Linked DNA regions of Homo sapiens. Changing the gene in region 3 together with the main gene of any one other region gives a genetic interaction. Each region holds a gene or a part of one and is shown on either strand. Other genes may lie near its edges.

Region 1 (3,500 bases), on a different chromosome or scaffold from region 3:
CACCTCGGAGAGCTCGGAAGAGGAGGAAGAAGCAGAAGCCGAAACCGCCAAAGCCAGTAAGAGCCTTGCAGCTTTGGGAACAGGCTATGGAATATTGATTGTTCTAGGGTAGAGTCTACCTCCAGCTTCTTCTCTTATCACTAGAAGACCTAAAAGACCCTGGGGAGGAGATTGGGAGGGCACCACATATCTTTGGCAGTATTTGAGCCCTTCCTCCGTGCCAGGCATTATATCTCCATGCTCTGGGGGTGCAAGGCCGAACCAAAACAACCAGATGGGCCCTTCCAGTCTCATTTGGTGTATGGGGCCCAGGAGCTGCCCTATTACAGGCTCCCAGGTGATTCTTATTAGCTGGAAAGAAGACACACGTTCAGAAGTACTGCTGGAGGGATTTCAGAAAGCAGCTAGCGGACACATTTTCTGTGTGACCTGTGGGATGCTTTAGGAATTGCTGATCTTCATGTTCATTTAGAATTGTACCCATTAGCACTGGAACGCTGTACTGGGCACTGGTTTTACACCGTTTGCAGGAGTAACTCAGTCAAAGCTTTTATAGCCCCTTCTTCTCCTAAGGTCCCAGGGCTCCTTGTACTTTCCCCAACAGCAGCCATAACTCTACAGAGGAATTGCTGTGTCTCCTTTGCATCGTATTATCTTCTTTTGCTTACATAGAAGACACATTTCTTAATACTTATTTTTTATTTTTCAAGACAAAGTCTTGCCATGTTGTCCAGGCTGGTCTTGAACTCCTGAGCTCAAGTGATCCTCCTGCCTTAGCCTCTTGAGTAGGTGGAATTCCATGCACATACCACCATGCCCAGCTTCCTGAGTCTGCTTTTAAAGTGTTTGAGATCATACTAGGTATATATTTTATTATTTTTTTGAGACGGGGTTTCACTCTTGTCACCCAGGCTGGAGCACAATGGCGTGATGTCAGCTCAGGGCAACCCCCGCCTCCTGGGTTCAAGTGATTCTCCTGCCTCAGCCTCCCGAGTAGCTGGGACTACAGGCATGCACCACTACTGTCAGCTAATTTTGTGGGTTTTCTTTTTCTTTCTTTTTTTTTTTTTTTTTTTTAATAGAGACGGGGTTTCACAATGTTAGCCAGACTAGTCTCAGGTGATCCGCCCACCTTGGCCTCCAAAAGGGCTGGGATTACAGGCATGAGCCACTGCGCCCTGGATATATATTATATATCGCTTAATTTTACATTATAAATGCAAAACGAGTTCACTTTGAACTGTAGAAGAGCATATAGAAGAAAACTTAAAGGTTTTTTGTTGTCCTACCCTGTTCCCTATCATTCCTAAGTGCATCTCCTCATAGGTAACCTTTAAAACTTCCTCCTTTGCCTCTATATTCATTCAAACATGTATTCTTACATGCATATATACAGACCTGCATGCTATTTGAAACACAAATGGTAAAATTTCTTACTGATTGGCTATTTGGTATTAATCAATTTTATAAGCTGTGATAATGGAGGTGTAATTACATTTTTTTGTTTGTTTGTTTGGGGCTTTTTTTGATATGAGGTCTTGCCATGTTGCCTAGACTGGCCTTGAACTCCTGGCCTCAAGTGATCCTCCTGCCTCAGCCTCCGGGTATGTAATTTTATTTTTTTAAAAGTCTTCACTGGGTTGGGCATGGTGGCTCACACCCACCGGTAATCCCAGCACTTTGGGAGGTCAAGGTAGAAGGATCACTTGAGCCCAGGAGTTGGAGACCCGCCTGGGCAACATGGCAAAACCCTGTATCTACAAAAAATTTAAAATTTAGCCAGGCATGGTGGCGTGTGCTTGTAGTTTCAGCTGCCTAGGAGGCCTGAGGTGGGAGGATTACTTGAGCCCAGGAGGTCAAGGCTACAGTGAGCCATGACTGTGCCTGCACTCCAGCCTGGGCAACAGAGCAAGACTGTCTCAAAAAAAAAAAAAAAAGGAAGAAGAGTCCTCGTTGGCATCCTGGGCAACATAGTGAGACTCCGTCTCTGCAAAAAATAAGAAAATTAGCTGGGCATGGTGGCATGCACTGGTGGTCCCAGCTACTCAGGAGGCTGAGATAGGAGAATCATGTGAGTCCAGGCATTGGAGGTTGCAGTGAGCTATGAATGTGCCACTGTACTCCAGCCTGGGCAGCAGAGCAAGACCCTGTCTCAAAAAAAATTTAAAAACGCATCCTCATTGAGAGAGAAACATGCTGAAGTATTTGTGGGCAACGTGGTAGGATCTATGGCATTTTCTTCAAAGTAATGCTTGATGGGGAAGGGTGAGTGAGATAATACATGAGATGAAAAGATTGGTCACAAGTTGTTAATGGTTGGAGCTGCCTGGTTCTTCCTTTCTATTTACTACTTAAAAATTTTCCATAATTACAGAAAGAGAGAGATGGAGTGAAGTGCCAGGAAAAGAATTAGATCATGCCATTCATCTCAGCAACATTCTTCTTTTTTTTTTTTTTTTTTTTTTTTTTGAGACGGAGTCTCGCTCTGTCGCCCAGGTCGGACTGCGGACTGCAGTGGCGCAATCTCGGCTCACTGCAAGCTCCGCTTCCCGGGTTCACGCCATTCTCCTGCCTCAGCCTCCCGAGTAGCTGGGACTACAGGCGCCCGCCACCGCGCCCGGCTAATTTTTTGTATTTTTAGTAGAGACGGGGTTTCACCTTGTTAGCCAGGATGGTCTCGATCTCCTGACCTCATGATCCACCCGCCTCGGCCTCCCAAAGTGCTGGGATTACAGGCGTGAGGCCACCGCGCCCGGCCCAACATTCTTCTTAACAAAAAGAAATCTGAGATTTAAGGAGACAATACCCTGGTATAAAAGCACTGAGAAGCTGGGTGCGGTGGCTCATGCCTGTAATCCCAGCACTTTGGGAGGCCGAGGTGGGCAGATCACGAGGTCAGGAGATCAAGACCATCCTAGCTAACACGGTGAAACCCCGTCTCTATTAAAAATACAAAAAATTAGCCAGGCATGGTGGTGGACGTCTGTAGTCCCAGCTACTCAGGAGGCTGAGGCAGGAGAATAGTGTGAACCCAGGAGGCGGAGCTTGCAGTGAGCCGAGATTGTGCCACTGCACTCCAGCCTGGGCGACAGAGCAGGACTCTGTCCCAGTAAATAAATAAGCACTGAGAATCAGTGAATATCGATATCTAACGGGGCCCAGGTGGCATGGTTCAGCCACCTCTCCACTAAGAAGCCATTTGAATTCCAGGCAACTTTCTCTGTGGACCTGAGGCTGGCTGCCTGCCTGACCACTGCCCCTTCTTGCCGAACAGCTTTCAGGGCTACAGTGTGGTGGCCTGTGTGAATGGTGCCCATTGCAGTGTGCAGTGCCCAGTAGGCAGCAAGAATGTGGGCCAGTCCTTTTCCCTCCAGGGGCCTCCACGTCTCATGCTGCGGGGGAGTTGGGAATCCATCAAGGATGCAGACACATAGCTTCATGTTACCATCCTCTTCTCTCTTGCTCCTGGTGGACCTGGCTGATGCATCACAGAGCTCATT
Region 2 (3,500 bases), on a different chromosome or scaffold from region 3:
TGAACTTACCCATAGACCTTTAGCCCATAGAATCCCTCCCTCATATTAGAGCATTAGTCTAAACTTTGAATAATTTTCTTTAAAAAGTATAAACCTGGTCTTCTTAGTAATGATTTTTTTTTTTTTTTGAGATGGAGTCTCGCTCTTTTGCCCAGGCTAGAGTGCATGGCACCATCTCACTGCAACCTCTGCCTCCCAGTTCAAGCATTTATCCTGCCTCAGCCTCCCGAGTAGCTGGGATTAGAGGCCCACGCCACCAAGCTCAGCTAATTTTTGTACTTTTAGTAGAGATAGGGTTTGACCATGTTGGCCAGGATGGTCTCAAACTCCTGACCTCAATTGATCCACCCACCTGAGCCTACCAAAGTGCGGGATTACAGGCCTGAGCCATCACGCCCGGCCTGTTTTTTTGGGTTTGTTTTGTTTTTTCTTTTAAGAGACAGTCTTGCTTTGTCATCTAGGCTGGAGTGCAGCGGCCTGATGATCATAGCTCACTGCAGCCTCAAACTTCTGGGCTCAAGCAATCCTTCTGCCTCAGCCTCCCAAGTAGCTGGGACTACAGGTACACTACCACGCTTGGCTAATGTTTTTACATTTTTTTTTAGAGACGGAATCTTGCTATGTTCCCCAGGCTGGTCTCAAACTCCTGACCTCAACCAATACTCCTGCCTCGCCCTCCCAAAGTGCTGAGATTATTCTAATTTTCTACAGCTCAGTACTAGTTTGGCACCTAAGCGCACTTAGTAAATTTTTTAAATGATTCCCTAGTATTTTCTATTTTCTATTTACTATAGTTCATTTTTGAAAAATCTGTTTGCAATCCACTAGGTTTATTTTACAAGCTTCAGTGGGTCTCAGCTTTCAGTTTAAAAAAGCAATAGAACCAAGCACAGTGGTTCACGCCTGTAGTTCTAGCACTTTGGGAGGCCAAAGCAGGAAGATTGCTTGAGGACAGGCGTTCAAGACCAGCCTGGGCAACATAGGGAGATGCTGTCTCTACAAAAAATAAATTAAAAAAAAAAAATAGCTGGATGTGGTAGCATGTGCCCATAGTCCTACCTGCTTGGGAGGCTGAGGCAGAAGGATTGCGTGAGCCCAGGAGTTTAAAGTTACAGTGAGCTATGATGCACTGGGCAACAGAGCAAGACCCTGTTTTTATTTAAAAAAAAAAAATTATAGGATATGTTCTTTGAATATCTCTTATATTCATGATAAGGGTGTACATGTGGTCTTTTCTACATCTGTTCTTTCAGGGAACAACTCCAGACACTTTGCCAGTGGGTTTGTGAAAAAATGTGTCAGCTGTTTCAGTCGTTTTTGCTGGTGTCAAAGGGAACAGCTCTGTGACCCAGTTCACATTATAATACTTGGATGAATAGATATAGCCACAATATAAATAGGAAGATTAATGTTTAGCTCGTACTTCGTTTAACAAAGCTCATGACTCAGCAACCCAGAAAATAGTTTTTAAAACCCGTAGCACTTGTGAAATATTTGCCTAGAGGAAGGGAGGAGAGCATGATTTGATGACTTTTTAAAGAAATCAAAATTAAAGCAATCAAATAATACTCACATTTATATAAGAAATACTTCAATTTACTTTCCAATGAGTAAAGTTTTATATTTAATGTTTTAATATTTCATATTTTAGTTTCTTGCAATTATTTACTTTTTCTAAAACCTACTTAAATTAGGTTTAAAAGTCTACTATATATAATTTGAAATTTTATTCAGTTTGCCTACAGGTGTGTTTTAACCACTGTGTACATAGTATTTAACGGTCTGCTTTTTTTTTTTTAATAATGGTTCATGTATGAACATCTGTATGTTCATACTTTTCTTGACAAAGTTCTAAAGGTTACTGTGTTGAAGCATACTGAACGATTACTGATAATTTCTATTTTGAGGAACAGGTATGTCAGTTCTTTCTCTCTGTTTGATAATTCTCTCTTTTCCCCTTAGGAATCCAAAAATCCTTGTGGAGTGTCTTACTCCTGATTTTCGAGGTGATCTCAAAGCAATAGAAAAAGTTGCTCTGTCAGGATTAGATGTGTATGCACATAATGTAGAAACAGTCCCGGAATTACAGAGGTGAATACGTGTACAAAGTAATGTTGGGAAGTTAGGCGGGTCAAAATATGCCATATATTCTTGCCTTTTCCAGGGCTGAACTTTGCCATTGACTTTTACAAAGTAAACTCTATTCTTTTTTGTTTTTTAGGCAAACTCAATCTATGTCTCTTACATAAAAATCAGAAAATATCACCAACAAAATCAGCATAAATATCACCCATAATAGTATTTCCACCCAGCAATATCAGTTACTAACACCTTAGTGTTTATATTATAAACACTATATTTATACTACATATTTGTATTTTTATATTTATAATATACTTAATTTTTATATTACAAACATTAAGATGTTAGTAACTCATATTACTAAGTTACTGTGTGTGTTTTAATACCCACAAATAATTAACATCTTTTTTCTTTTGTTTTAAAATAATATCATACTGCAAATTTCAATAAGTTGTTTGTTTCCCCCTCCCCACAAATAAAGTTTTCAAAGGAGGGAAAAAATTACACTAGAGCAATTGCTTTGGTTGTAATTCTAAAGAAAAGACTTCAAAAATATATTTGGCTGGATGCTGTGGCTCACGCCTGTAATCTCAGCACTTTGGGAGGCAGAGGCAGGCAGATTACCTGAGGTTGGGAGTTCGAGACCAGCCTGACCAACATGGAGAAACCCCGTCTCTACTAAAAATACAAGATAGCCAGGCGTGGTGGCACATGCCTGTAATCCCAGCTACTCGGTAGGCTGAAGCAGGAGAAGAATCACTTGAACTCGGGAGGCGGAGGTTGCAGTGAGGTGAGATTGCGCCATTGCACTCCAGCTTGGGCAAAAAGAGCGAAACTCCATCTAGAAAGAGAAAGGAAAAAAAAAATATATATATATATATATATTTTTTTATATTATATATATTCATATATATTTATATATATATATTCAGCACTAATATGTGTAATAAATGATGCAGAAGAAAAACTCGTGGCTCACGCCTATAATCCTAGCACTTTGGGAGGCCGAGGCGGGCGGATTACCTGAGGTTGGGAGTTCAAGACCAGTCTGGCCAACATGATGAAACCCCATCTCTACTAAATATACAAAAAATTTTAGCTAGGTGCAGACCTGTAATTCCAGCTACTCTGGAGGCTGAGGCAGGAGAATTGCTTGAACCCGGGAGGCGAAGGTTGCGGTGAGCCGAGATAGTGCCATGGTACTCCATCCTGGGCGACAGCAAAACTTTGTCTCAAAAAAAAAAAAAAAGAAAAAAACTCATATCATTCAGATGTACTTTTTAAAAAAAGTAGACACTATGCTTTCTTATTCCTAATAATTTCAGTAATTAAGACTAATCATTGGCAAGTAACACTGATGTAAGAAAAAAAGTAAGGATTGTTATCCACATCCATTCAAATTTTAGAAAAATGAACAT
Region 3 (4,051 bases):
GACAAAGCTACCAGTGGCTGTCATAGGATGGTGGGATTTCAGGTGATCCTTAGATATTACATGTTATTACCTCACAATGAGCATGTGTTATTTATATAGTCTGAAAAAACAGAAAGCTATTTTTTTTGAGACGGATTCTTGTTCTGTTGCCCAGGCTGGAGTGCAGTGGTGCGATCTCGGCTCACTGCAACCTCTGCCTCCCTCCTGGGTTCAAGCGATTCTCCTGCCTCAGCCTCCCAAGTACCTGGGATTACAGGCACGTGCCAGCACACCCAGCTAATTTTTGTATTTTTAGCAGAGATAGGGTTTCACCATGTTGGCCAGGCTGGTCTCCCAACTCCTGACCTCAGGTAATCTGCCAGCCTCGGGGCCTCCCAAAGTGCTGGGATTACAGGTGTGAGCCACTATGCCGGGCCCATAGAGCTATTTTCTTTGGGGATAAAAATGGGAGTTATAAGAATTGGAGACTCACTATTAAGAATAAAGAGAGAAACCATATATTTTACAGGTGAACATCATAGCTTTTATCTGAAAGAGGTATAAAAAAGATGCCCATGTTCTAATTCTTCTTTTGCTACCTAAGAGTTGTTGACATTGGCCCCAGGCCCTAAAAAGCAATCAAGATGCAAAATGAAGTACTATAAGGAAAACAAACTTCACTATCACTGTGTATCTATCTTCAGTGCAGAAACACAATCTTTTAAGTTACACCATCCTTCACAATCTAAGAGGTGCTGCTGTAGATGATGTAACTGACAGCAACATCAGAGTTGGGCTCCTAGGGATTCTCTCCCCTCAGACACCCGAGTCCCTTTTTGTAGTGTATAAAAGATGATTATGTGTTGACAGATCATAAACACACTGAGATAAAGGAGACACTAAAAAGCACATTTTAACACTTGTGAGGTATTCTAAGATTCAGATTTGGCTTTCCAGAATTGGAAAATTGGCCTTGGATGGTGCCTACAGCCATGAGTCTCAAACTATTTTCCAAGCTTGGCACACATGACAGTTTCACCTACCCAAGCACTTTTCCCTGGGTCTTCCTGAAGTTATGCCACTGACACCCTTTCCCCTCAACTCATGAAAACACATCAGAAGGCAAGTGAGTGAGATGACCTTTAGTCAGCTGGAATATAGAAAAGGCAAGCTGTGACATTAACCATTAGTAACAGTATTCGCAATCCCACTTGAGTGTTGCTACACTGTGGTTAAAAAATTGTGGTCTCCAGCCTGGCCAACATGGTGAAACCCTGTCTCTACTAAAAATATAAAAAAATTAGCTGGGTATGGAGGCAGGTGCCTGTAATCCCAGCTACTTAGGAGGCTGAGGCAGGAGAATTGCTTGAACCCAGGAGACAGAGGTCACAGTGAGCCGATATCATGCCACTGTACTCCAGCCTGGGCCACAGAGTGAGACTCCATCTCAAACGCAAAAAAAATTGTGGTCTCCAAAATAGTATGGTGTAAAATGGTTCGTTACCATATGCATAGGGGAAGACAATGTTAGAACTAGTTCTAGATATTTCTTTTTATCTCATCATTTAAAAATTAGTGTTTTATAACAGTAAGTTATAGAAATAATATTACTACATGTGTAAAATATATAAATATCCATATCAAGGGCATACCTGCTAAAACATTTCTTAACTGGCTAGGGTGCAGAATTAAACCTTTTTGAAACTAAACCTAAAAGCCAAAGCGAAAGTCATTTTCATTTAAATGCAAACTTCAGAAAAGAATGAATACTCAAAAGTTTTAGGAGATGAAAGAGAAGAGTAGTTAAGAAGTTTAAAGGCCCAGTGCTTTTTCTATTAATTAGTAAAACCCACACTAAACACTACTGCAAAAGCTAAAAATAAATGTAAAAAAGAGAAAGGAAACAGAAGACTCTATTGGGATGGAATGAGAACAGCATCTTTCATCCACCCATGCATACCCACACACAGGTAATTATGATGTAACTCCCTGGAACAGTTCAAGAAAAAAATTAACAAGATGCACAGCCTCTTGGCATTCTGATGTGGTTTTAGCATTCCGTCTCTTAAAATAAAAAGCAATTAGTTATATAGTTGACCCTACAGTATTTAGGAAAACAGAAGCAACACGTGAGGCTAAAATCATTTAATTATACACAGGCCACAATTGCAGGATGGAAAGGCAGTGGGCACTTGGAAGTGACTACACATGGCAATAAGCAGCCTATCTTCTTTACCAACCAGAAGTTTCTTGGGGCATGTGATGGTAGGCCAGACCCTTTCCAAGGGAATAATACTACACTAAGCCTACACTGTACTGTGAGAGTCATGGTGGAACAAGGCCACAGGCAGTGGGAGGAAATGTGATGACTCACTGTGTCAGAATTCTAAGGCCCAGCATGATCAGGATGTAAGGCTCCATAATTTTCTAAACCAGAAATTATGAGAAGAACAAAATTCTGCAATCACTTATGTTTTTTTCTTCTTTTTTTTTTTTGAGACAGAGTTTCACTCTTGTTGCCCAGGCTGGAGTGCAGTGGCACAATCTCGGCTCACTGCAACCTCCGCCTCCTGGGTTCAACCAATTCTCCTGCCCCAGCCTCCTGAGTAGCTGGGATTACAGGCATGTGCCACCACGCCCAGCTAATTTTGTATTTTTAGTAGAGATGGGGTTTCTCCATGTTTGTCAGGCTGGTCTTTAACTCCTGACCTCAGGTGATCCGCCTGCCTTGGCCTCCCAAGTGCTGGGATTACAGGCGTGAGCCACCATGCCCGGCTGCAATCACGTATGAGTTTTTCTAAAAAAACCGAAACACTGGAAACATGGATGCATCTTAAAGACTTTATGCTAAGTGAAACCAGTCACAAAAGGACAAATACTGTATGATTCCACTTACATGAGAAATATGAGTAGTGAAGTTGATGATAGAGACAAAAGGTATGGCTGTTGCTAGGGGAAGGGGAGGTGGGGAGTTATTGTTCAATGGGCACAGAATTTGGGAAGATGGAAAACTTCTGGAGATGGATGATGGTGATGGCTGGACAACAATGAGAATGTACTTAATCCACTGAATTGCATATTTAAAAATGGGTAAGCTGGTCAGTTTTATGTTATAAATATTTTACCTCAATAAAAACAAATTGAACTTAAAAATTCACTGAAGAAGCCAATATGGAAAAAGGACTAAATGTTAAAAAAAAAAAAGCCAACTTTTTTTTTTTAATCAAGAGATAAGTACTTAGCTGCAAGCTCAAGGTCTCGGTTGAGGACAATCATTATGAGTCCTAGTAAAAGACAACCAGTTTTAAGAACACTGTCAGGCAAGCTACCATGTAGTTCTCCTTGACTCCATGCTTAGCTCTTTCAGACTTCCCAGTAATTACGAAGGGTCACATTTTTGTTCAGCTTTGCCCAGTGCTGTCATTCATAATAGATGAATGAAAAGTCCCAGAAACCTGTTCTGTTTGGGAAGGTTTTCTTTTGTTCCAGGCTTCGGTGGTTAATATGCTTGACAAATTTCAGAGTCTCTCTGTCTCTGTAGACCAATGCCAAAGAATTGCTTTCTGGATTCACTGTTAGCAGCTGAAAAAGACAAATACAGTGACACATCAGAACACAGAACTTATTCTCAAATCTTGGATGATTAACCATGGAACAGATGGTTTCCATATCAAGCACTTAATCTGGGGATAGAGGGGTCCTCTGAATGAACACTTACTAGGGGTGGCTGTCAAGCCATTTTCCAACAAGCCCTATTCCAGCATATACCTAGAAAGGTACTTACCTATTACATTTATTTCTTACTACATTGTAAGATTTGTGGGAATGCACCACATGGCTCTTAATTTGGAATTTCTCAGGAGGGTAAAATAAATGCTTACTGAGTATCCTTTAGCATCTTTATTCCATCCTGAGTATTTTCTACTAGAAATTAGAACCATTGCCTGGCAGAGATTTATTAGCTAAAGACACTGGTAGAAGGTCATAAAAATTGGGTCTTTGAAAAATGAAAGCATTCTCAATAACTAAAAATGATAGTTTGCTATCAGAAGAAACTTACCTCTTCATCTTC
Region 4 (3,500 bases), on a different chromosome or scaffold from region 3:
TTTTTTTTAGTACTATGAAATCAAGGCATAATAGGTACTTGTTACTTTTAATGAGAATTTCATATGAATCACATTTTTATAAGGTATCTTTTAAAAAATTATACAGTTGACTTCAAGGGACCTTCAGAAGCAAAGCACCTACATATAATGGTGCTTGACAGTTTTACAAAGTTAGCATGACCATGATTTACCACCTTTTCCAACTTATAACATCTGTGAATTTGCTTGAAACACATACTGCCAGCCAGTCATAGTCAAATCCTGTCTCCATATCCCTGCCCCTCCTGGGAGCACATTTATTTATTATGTCTTTGCGTAATTATTCTTATCATTGGAAACAGTGTGCTTGATGTTAATGTTCAAATCTGTCAGAGGTAACACTTCTTTTCATAGCTACTTTGTAATCCTTTTTCTAACTATGAGGTAAAGAATACATAAAGAGGAATTTATATTAGATAAGTATTTCATCATAAATGTTCAGGTATGACTACAGTACACAGCATATTCGAAGATGATTGCCATAATATGCAAGACCTCTATGAGTGTCCTACAAGCCACTATCAGAAGATAAAGGATTATTGTTTTGGTGATTCAGTACCACAAGTGGTGTTGCTATTGGTTTCATGATTTTCCAAAATGGTAAAGAGCTTTTGATGAAGTTCCAAATACCATGTGATCTTCCTTTGGTTATATAATTACATTCTTGGGAAGATCAATGTGTATTACATGTATATTAAGATATACATTAGATGTGTATTAAAACTTCAGAGTTTCAGGCTTTGTTTCAAGTTGTACTTGATGGATTTACTATTTTTCAATAAGTTAAAATTTAAAAATTGTTTTGGCTTAAATTTCTAATATGGTAACTGTGGATAGATATAACCTACATAAACAAAAGCTTTTTGGAGTTCTCAATCGTAATAGTGTAAAGAAGCCCTGAGACCAAAGAGTTTGAGAACCACGCATCTAGAGTAATGTTTTTGTTGTTTTAGAGCATTGCTTTTCAACTAGAGCCATGCATTGGAATCGCCTGTGATTTCACAAGAACCTGATAACGTTGATTGCCTGTGGGAAGGGGAGCTGGTGGCCAGTGGTTGAGAACAGGACTTTTTATGGTATCTAACTTCATGCCTTTTCATTTTAAACTCTCTAAATGTGGGACTTACTCAGAATTAATATTGTGGGCTTCATCTCTAGGGCTTCTGATCCTGTAGGTGTCTGTTGGAGCTTGGCATCCGAAACATTAAAATGCGTGATAAGTTACTCTGACTTGCATCTGGAGTCAAGGGTGGCTAGTGTATGTGCTCTGTTCCTCTACTAAGCACTGTGGCTTACTCCCAACGCCCTCCTGACCCCTCCCCCATCCTTCAGAAAAGCAGAAGTGTGGAACATATAGTCCACGCTGTCGACAAGAAACAGGAAGGCAGAAACTTGGGTCTCCCCAAACAGTTCAACTTTTCCGCAGTTGTTTTTTGAATCTTGAGAAACACACAACTGTGGAGTTTCTGTATTCACTTGAGTCGAATTTATTTTTGTGCATCTTGAAGTTCAGTTGTCATCTTTAACCTGAGTGTATATAGAATCTTTTGGGGATACAAAGGGCAACTTTTTTGTTTAAAAGCTCTTGGGCCCACATCCAGGTGTCTCTGGAGCCTTCACATTTGGGACTGAACGCAATTCCAGCTGAGGGTCTTGCCTTGGCTTTGTATCTCCTCTAGTTCCTCTTCTCCTCTTCAGTCAGAGGGTCCTTTCTAGAAAACCAATCTCATCGAATCTGTTGAAGGCTTAATTTGTTCTCTATTTGTAGTCTTCAAGATGAAGACCAAATTATCTTGCTCAAGGTTAAAAATTGGGTGCATTTTTTGAGTTGTGATTCTAATGGCTGTAGCAGATATAGTATGTATTTAATATTTTCAGGTTAATAACAATACGAATAGCTAACATTTATATAAAACTTAAAATATGCTGGATGTTGTGCTTATACTGTGGTAGAATTATGGTGAACCTCATTTTCTAGATGAGAAAACTGAGACTTTGAGAGATTAAGTAGTTTGCTCACTATCATCGAGCTAGTAAATTGCGGGGCCAAGGTTGGAACCCAAGTTCTGATTCTACAGCTTGATATTTTGAATTAATTCACCCCGGCTTTTAAGTGTTGAATTTGATGGCGAATTTCTCTGTGTGCTCGATAGAGACAATAAGTCATGGCCCAGCTTGTGGGATGGCTTCTCACCTCTATCCGCTCTTGTGTTTAGAGTGTACAACTCAGCAGCACTGCTCTCTGGTCAGGCAGTGTGCCCTTGCATTCATTGAAATAATTTCAGAGGATCATCAGAGGAGTGTTCACTCCCCTTCCAGGAACCTGAGAACTGCCCACCCCTCACACACCCAGAGCAGATTAGAGGTGGGAGAACTAGACCTCTCCTTAGGTGATTTGTGGCCAAAAAAATGGAGTACTCTATTTTTCACTCTTGCATTAAGCAGAATCATCAGAGATCTACATCTGGACCTTGTCACCTGGGGCTCTCGATGGAGTGACTGACTGAGTGGCATTTAGAGCCCTGTGGCACGGCCTCCCTGCAGCAGCAGTGTCCAGTGCCGCCCTTCCCTGTGGGTTCCCCTCTCTGGTCCCTGGGCTCCTCACGTGGCAGCCTTGGCTGCCAGGCTAACGGTGTTTCCTGCAAGGCCTTCCCTCAGCATCTACTTCACGAGGTCCTCCTGGTCATGAGCTGTCATAGTGCCCTCATTTTCTTTGACGCTCTTATCACAGTCTGCCTTGGGTACTTATGTGCCACATTTGTTATGTTCTACGTCTGTCTCATTAACCACTGTACATCATATTGTTAGGGCCTGACGTGTTTGGCCTGTAGTAAGTATTTAGGAGTTATTCATTGAATTACTGATTGAGTTTAGTTATACTTTAAACACTGAACAGTATTTTGGGAGTATTTAAACCAGAAGCGTGTAGTGGACATTGCTTGATTTTTTCCCAGCTTATTCTTTGATTGCAGGTTCACTAAACAAGGAATGATTGCTATGTCTAATTTCTTTAGTAGTCTGGATTCTGTGCTTTTCCCTCTGAAGCACAGATTAAGTAGATTTGGTTTAAGAGGTAACAGTTGGATTTTTAAAAATATTTTATAATCAGCAAGAAGGATAAACTGGAAATTTGGTTGGTAAGAGGACAGGGAGACTCAGGTGTGGCTGAAGAGGTAAGTGGGGGTGAAATGATGACATCCATCTGAGGTGCAGAGAAAGTGAGGAGGTGAAGAGGAGAGTGTTTCTGGCATTGAAGAGTTCCTAACTTTTTGGTATGAGAAAGTTGAAAAGTATATAAAACATTTGGATTGGGGATATTTATGTGATGTACTTGAGTGTGAAAATGGTAACCTAAAAATAATTTTTACTGGCTGGGTACGGTGGCTCACACCTGTAATCCCAGCACTTTGGGAGGCCAAGGCGGGAGGATTGCTTGATCCCAGGAGTTCGAGACCAGCCTG

The links.
Region 1: changes in OGFOD1 (region 3) and TCOF1 together harm fitness more than expected from each alone (negative genetic interaction), as found in Homo sapiens cells (one large-scale study listed by BioGRID).
Region 2: changes in OGFOD1 (region 3) and LIAS together harm fitness less than expected from each alone (positive genetic interaction), as found in Homo sapiens cells (one large-scale study listed by BioGRID).
Region 4: changes in OGFOD1 (region 3) and TUBGCP3 together harm fitness less than expected from each alone (positive genetic interaction), as found in Homo sapiens cells (one large-scale study listed by BioGRID).

The regions. Positions count from the first base shown.
Region 1 is NC_000005.10:150,364,197-150,367,696, forward strand, and holds part of TCOF1 (treacle protein), read left to right. Parts: coding exon 1-56; intron 57-3,500.
Region 2 is NC_000004.12:39,465,556-39,469,055, forward strand, and holds part of LIAS (lipoyl synthase, mitochondrial isoform 1 precursor), read left to right. Parts: intron 1-1,962; coding exon 1,963-2,091; intron 2,092-3,500. UniProt on the Homo sapiens protein: Catalyzes the radical-mediated insertion of two sulfur atoms into the C-6 and C-8 positions of the octanoyl moiety bound to the lipoyl domains of lipoate-dependent enzymes, thereby converting the octanoylated domains into lipoylated derivatives.
Region 3 is NC_000016.10:56,475,554-56,479,604, reverse strand, and holds the end of OGFOD1 (prolyl 3-hydroxylase OGFOD1), read right to left. Parts: coding exon 4,040-4,051; intron 3,562-4,039; coding exon 3,400-3,561; 3' UTR 501-3,399; downstream 1-500.
Region 4 is NC_000013.11:112,581,654-112,585,153, reverse strand, and holds part of TUBGCP3 (gamma-tubulin complex component 3), read left to right. Parts: intron 1-992; exon of another isoform or gene 993-1,115; intron 1,116-3,500. UniProt on the Homo sapiens protein: Component of the gamma-tubulin ring complex (gTuRC) which mediates microtubule nucleation.